Linked DNA regions of Homo sapiens: region 1 is reported to be linked to region 2. The links are microRNA targets in miRTarBase. Many come from high-throughput screens and were not tested one by one. Region 2 holds a microRNA gene; the other region holds the end of a gene's coding sequence.

Region 1 (3,000 bases), not on the chromosome of region 2:
AGAGACGGTGAGCCCAGGCAGTGCCCTGTGGCCGGCGGCTGTGGCCTGGGGGCTGCTGGGGCCCTGCAGTGAGGTGGGCAGGACACCAGCTGGCCAGCCTGTTCTCAGCCGCCTTCTCGCCCACAGCGTGTTCCCGTTTACGTGGAGGCCACGGCACTCGAGCCCCAGCCCTGCACTCCTTCCCACCCCTGTGGAGCCCACAGCGGCTTGTGGCCCTGGGGGTGGAGATGGGGTGGCCTAGTGGACCTGGCCCATCTGCCACTCTAGTCCCTGCAGCTCAACGTCCTGCGTGAATGCAGCAGCCACCCCCGTCTTGGCCCAGGTCCTGGGGGCTGCTGAACCCAGCACCAGTGTCCCCTTGTGCCCAGGGGGCCCAGTCTTCTGTGGGGTGCACAGCCTCCCTCCCTCCAGCAAGCCCTCCCTGCCCAGAAGGAATGGGTCCAGGTGTGGATTCCCAGGGAGGGGGTTCATTGGCTCAGCTTGGGTCAGGGCAGAGCCTGTTACCTGAAGAGAGGTGAGACCAAGGCCACAGGGAGCTCCACCTTCTCTGGTCTTCAGTCCAGCACTGGGTGCCCATCCCCATCTCTAAAACCAGTAAATCAGCCAGCGAATACCCGGAAGCAAGATGCACAGGCGGGCGGCTTCCCACACACCCGTCACAAGACGCGGACATGCAGGTCTCGGCGCGAGCTCTGCCCCGTCCAAGAGCCTCTCCGCTGTCGCCCAGTGTGAGCCTGGAAGAGGACCCAAGAGAGTGCCGTGCTGAGGCTGCCTCGAGGTCACTGCCTTCCGGAGCTGCGCCTATTCCTCCCTCGCCAAACGCGTTCCAGAATTTGTCCACAGGTGCGCCGGCACCTGCTTTCCCACCTCGAGGCCGCGGCCTCCCCCCCGATTTATAGACAACTCTGACATTGTCACCCCACTGACGAGGCCCGATTCCATAGGGTGGATCCTTGCCAGGCGTCCCTGATCCTCCCTGCCCAAGTCTTCCTTCGTGAGCTGGCCTTGCTCCCCATCCCCCAAGTGCCTCACCAGTCCCCCAGACTGGGTGAAGGTACAGCTGGCTCCTTTCGGGGGTGCAGCTTCAACTCTCTCGGCGGTAGGGCGGTGCCATCCCCACCCATAGGGCTGGCTCACATCCAGTCACTCCCAACAGCGTCCAGCACACAAATAAAAGACCCTTGGGCCCTGGCTCTGAGCCCATCCTGCTGTGGGTGCAGCTTATGGTGTGACGGTGCATGTGACACATGCATGGGTGTGTGTGCGTATGAGGCATGTGTAGCACTGAGGCACACGTGTGGTGTGTATGTATAGCGTGTGTGATTGTGTGTAGTGCACGTGTGCAGGTGTACTGAGGCATGCATATGTGGTGTGTGTGTGCACGTGTCGTGTGTATGAGGCATGTGTAGCACTGAGGCACAAGTGTGTGTACGCATAGCATGTGTGATTGTGTGTAGCACCCGTGTGCAGGTGTACTGTGAGGCATGCATATGTGGTGTGTGTGCGTGTGTATGAGGCATGTGTAGCACTGAGGCACACGTGTGGTGTGTACGCATAGCATGTGTGATTGTGTGTAGTGCACGTGTGCAGGTGTACTGTGAGGCATGCATGTGTGGTATGTGCATGTGTCGTGTAGGATGCATGTGTAGCACTGAGGCACACGTGTGGTGTGTACGCATAGCATGTGTGATTGTGTGTAGTGCACGTGTGGTGTACTGTGAGGCATGTGTGGTGTGTGCACGTGTTGTGTGTATGAGGCATGTGTAGCACTGAGGCACACGTGTGGTGTGTACGCATAGCACGTGTGATTGTGTGTAGTGCACGTGTGCAGGTGTACTGTGAGGCATGCATATGTGTGTGCACGTGTCGTATGAGGCATGTGTAGCACTGAGGCACACGTGTGGTGTGTACGCATAGCACGTGTGATTGTGTGTAGTGCACGTGTGCAGGTGTACTGTGAGGCATGCATGTGTGGTGTGTGTGCACGTGTCGTGTAGGATGCATGTGTGGTGCACATTGCATGTATGAGGTGTGCACATGTATAGTACATATGTGTGAATGTATTGTGCATGTGATGTGTGCAGTGTGTGGTGAGGGAGGGGGCAGGTCCCAGGTGTGTGGAGTCGATGGTGGAGGAGGGACTTGACCCTCTCAGACCCAGGCAGCAGACTTGGGGCATCTGGTCTTTGGGAGGAGACAGCCAGGGCACTGTGCTCTGGTGGGCTAGGGTGAGCAGGGTAGTGTGTGGGGACGCCTGCCCTCCAGAGGGGGAACAGTGAGGAAACTGTTAAGGAAGCCTCTGGGGAGGGGCAGTTGTCCCCAGCCTGCCCTAAGGCCACAGAGCTGCAGAGGGCATGGCATGGCATGGCCCAGACTCTCTAGGGCCCGCAGTGACCACAGGGCAAGAATCCCTTCTTCACAGTCTGGGGGTGCAGGCTGTTCCTGCAGGGAGGGAAACTTCTGCCCACCAGCAATGGCACCCCTTGGCCCAGCCCCTCAACTCCGGCTTCTCAGGGTGGGGCTCATGGCCCTGCCCACCCCTCCATGGCCAGGGGCACAGCTGCTCCTCTGACCTGCAGGGTGACCCCTCCCTTTGGGGACCCCCTGCCCTCCCTCCCGTGCTGTCAGGGGGCAGCTCTTGCAACCCCAGTGAACCTTCCCTTCTCCCTCCAGCCCCACCCTGCCCGCCTGGCGGTTCTCACTTATAGGACGCGTCCGCAGAGCCCTATATGGCCCTTTCATACCCAAGGCCTTCTGGGCTGAGTTACTTTTCTCAGGGACAAGAGAACCGCTTCCTGGCACGAGGGCACCCACCTGTTCAACCTCATCCCCCACGTCCCCCTACCACGCCTTGGAAGGAGCAATGGGAACAAGGTTACACCTGTGTGGCTCTGAAGCGGGGCTTTTCACACTTGCATACATGGCCGTGGGACAGTCCTGCAGGGCTCTCTAAAGCACCTGCCTGCCCCTCACTGCCGCCACACCCAAAGCTGCATCTCC
Region 2 (3,149 bases):
GCCGGCTGAGGTCTAAGTAAGCAGGGATGGGGGGTGGCAAGAGGAGTGTAAGTGAAAGCACAGACAGTCGGAGACTCGGCCAGTGTAGACAGACCCAGAGACTCGGCCAGTGTAGACAGAGCCAGGCTGGGCAGCCCGGCGACGCTGGCCCCACGCACACGGGCCACCCTGGTGCTGGTGATCGATACGGCAGGGAGGGGGTGGGCAGGGAGGGTCCTGAACACATGTGGGCTGCTGGGCTGCTGGGCCGGGGTGCCTACACTGTAACTAGCAGCATAGTGCTTAACTAGTTAACAAGAAATGCTGCTTCCCTTTGAATTGTTTCGGGGGTGTAGAAATTGCACTTATTTCTATGAACCCCATGGAGGGATGCCCACAGCTGAGCCTCCAGGCGAGGCATGGCAGGTCAGTGCCTGGCCGCTGAGCATCCACGGGCCACAGGGCGGGATCCTCCCGGCCCCCAGGGACTGCAGCCTCTGCGGCCACGGGTGCAGCGAGGACCGGAACCCACAGGGGGAACCTGAGCAACGTCTGAGGTGCCCTGAAGTGGCTCCAGGCGAGACCGGAGCCACACAGTCCCGGGGAGCACGAGGCGGCCCAGCCCCAGGTCCCGGTGCAGAGGGAGTGGCCTGATGGTGACTGGGCGGAGGCCTCTGCCCCTCACAGGACGTCGTCAAAGTCCAGCAGCTTCGAGTGCTGGCGGCTCTTCCACAGGCGATACAACCGGAAGTCAAAGTACGTCTCGATCATCTGCTTCCCTGGGCGGAGCGGGGGCAGGAGGCTCAGGCCTGGCCGGCCCTGGGGATCCCACCCCACCGTGGCCCCGCAGTGGCTGCAGAGCTTCGGCCCAGCCTGGGTAACTCACCTTGGGCTGAGAGCTCCAGGGGTGACTCGAAGGTGACCCTATAAGGAGTCATGAGGGTCCTGAGGTTCTGGAACAGCTGGAGGAAGCGGGGTGCCATGAGTCCGAGGCAGAGAGATGGGGAAGGAGGAGCGGGGAGGAGATGGGGAGCAGGGCCCACCCTCTTTTTTCAGACCCCCCAAACCTGGCTGGGCTCAGGCATAAAGGATTTCTAGGGGAATGCCCGGGGGAAGGAAAAAAAATGCCAGGAAACATGGAAGGCTCTGCCCTGTCTGTCCACGTCGGGGGTTTCCAGAGGTCTGGGGTGGGGCTTGGGGGTCACTGTACCTTCTCTCCATTGGGGTTCCCCAGAATGTAGCAGCCCATGATGTGGATGACGTTCGGCTCTGGGTTCACTTTGCTCATCAGGCGGCTCAGCCGCTTCCAGAAGCTGGTGGAGAGGGGTGGGTCACCCAGTGGCAGGGGACAGGCACCCCACTCCACAGAGCGGACCGTGGAGGAGGGGCTGTGGGGGAGGGACATGCCAGGGCCTGGACTCTGCCTCCAGCCCTCCCCGCGCCCAGGGCACCCGGCTTCTCACTGAATCATGTCCTCTTCCTTCTCCACTTTGGCAAAGGTGGCCACCTTGTTCTTGAGGAGATAGAGGTGTCCAGGACCTCCCTGTAAGAAGCTGTGGTCAGGCATCTGCTCCTCCTTCCTCCCCCTCTCCGACACACATGCACCCACGCACATGCGTGGGAGGTAGTTTTGGTCTTCATCCCCCGGCCACGCTTCTTCCCCTTGATCTCCCCCACCACACGTCTTTCCCTTGATCTCCCCCACCACACGCCTCTTCCCTTTGATCTCCCCCCCACGCCTCTTCCCCTTGATCTCCCCCACCACATGCCTCTTCCCTTTGATCTCCCCCACCACACGCCTCTTCCCTTTGATCTCCCCCACCACACACCTCTTCCCTTTGATCTCCCCCACCACACGCCTCTTCCCCTTGATCTCCCCCACCACACGCCTCTTCCCTTTGATCTCCCCCACCACACGCCTCTTCCCTTTGATCTCCCCCACCACACGCCTCTTCCCTTTGATTTCCCCCACCACACGCCTCTTCCCCTTGATCTTCCCCCGCCTCTTCCTCTTGATCTCCCCCCCTCGCCTCTTCCTCTTAATTCCCCCCAATGCCTCTTCCCCTTGATCTCCCCCACCACACGCTCTTCTCCTTGATCTCCCCCCAATGCCTCTTCCCCTTGACCTGCCCGCCACGCCTCTTCCTTTTGATCTCCCCCCCACACCTCTTCCCCTTGATCTCCCCCCCACGCCTCTTCCCCTTGATCTCCCCCTCCACACGCCTCTTCCCCTTGATCTTCCCCTGCCCCTCGTCTCTTCCCCTTGATCTCCCCTGCCACGTCTCTTCCCCTTGATCTCCCCCACCACGTCTCTTCCCCTTGATCTCCCCTCCACGTCTCTTCCCCTTGATCTCCCCCTCCACACGCCTCTTCCCCTTGATCTTCCCCTGCCACACGTCTCTTCCCCTTGATCTCCCGCGCCACACGCCTCTTCCCCTTGTTCTGCCCTCCACGCCTCTTCCCCTTGGTCTTCCCCACCACACGCCTCTTCCCCTTGGTCTCCCCCGCCACGTCTCTTCCCCTTGGTCTTCCTTGGCCACACGCCTCTTCCCCTTGATCTCCCCACCATGCCTCTTCCCCTTGATCTCCCCCTCCACACGCCTCTTCCCCTTGATCTTCCCCTGCCCCTCGTCTCTTCCCCTTGATCTCCCCCGCCACGTCTCTTCCCCTTGATCTCCCCCGCCACGTCTCTTCCCCTTGATCTCCCGCGCCACACGCCTCTTCCCCTTGTTCTGCCCTCCACGCCTCTTCCCCTTGGTCTTCCCCACCACACGCCTCTTCCCCTTGGTCTCCCCCGCCACGTCTCTTCCCCTTGGTCTTCCTTGGCCACACGCCTCTTCCCCTTGATCTCCCCACCATGCCTCTTCCCCTTGATCTCCCCCTCCACACGCCTCTTCCCCTTGATCTTCCCCTGCCCCTCGTCTCTTCCCCTTGATCTCCCCCGCCACGTCTCTTCCCCTTGATCTCCCCCGCCACGTCTCTTCCCCTTGATCTCCCCCGCCACACGCCTCTTCCCCTTGGTCTTCCCCCGCCACGTCTCTTCTCCTTGATCTACCCCCCAAACACCTCTTCCCCTTGGTCTCCCCCAGCCACACGCCCCTTCCCCTTCATTTCCCCCCCGCCACACGCCTCTTCTCCTTGATCTTTCCCCCTCAATGTCTACACCTCTT

The links. The annotated mature microRNA hsa-miR-7114-3p reads UGACCCACCCCUCUCCACCAG and lies in region 2 at 1,293-1,313, opposite strand. An mRNA with a match to its seed (bases 2 to 7 or 8) in the 3' UTR can be bound and repressed. Matches are read on the target gene's strand: a 7mer-m8 pairs with bases 2 to 8, a 7mer-A1 pairs with bases 2 to 7 and ends in A, and an 8mer does both.
Region 1: miRTarBase lists RGS11 as a target of hsa-miR-7114-3p. Seed matches in the 3' UTR shown: 7mer-A1 at 482-488.

Annotation. Positions count from the first base shown.
Region 1 is chr16:266,510-269,509 of GRCh38, reverse strand. RGS11 (regulator of G protein signaling 11) reads left to right here. Exons shown (of 17, transcript NM_183337.3): 16 at 1-7; 17 at 127-1,203. The coding sequence ends at 241. It also overlaps a transcript of FAM234A not described here. Among named protein-coding and RNA genes, the nearest start is that of RGS11, 7.9 kb to the left of the region's middle.
Region 2 is chr9:137,448,734-137,451,882 of GRCh38, forward strand. It overlaps MIR7114 (microRNA 7114), which reads right to left and starts at 1,353; the gene lies at 1,293-1,353. It overlaps NSMF (NMDA receptor synaptonuclear signaling and neuronal migration factor), which reads right to left. Exons shown (of 16, transcript NM_001130969.3): 13 at 1,443-1,522; 14 at 1,190-1,292; 15 at 866-941; 16 at 1-758. The coding sequence ends at 661. RefSeq lists an enhancer at 536-1,735.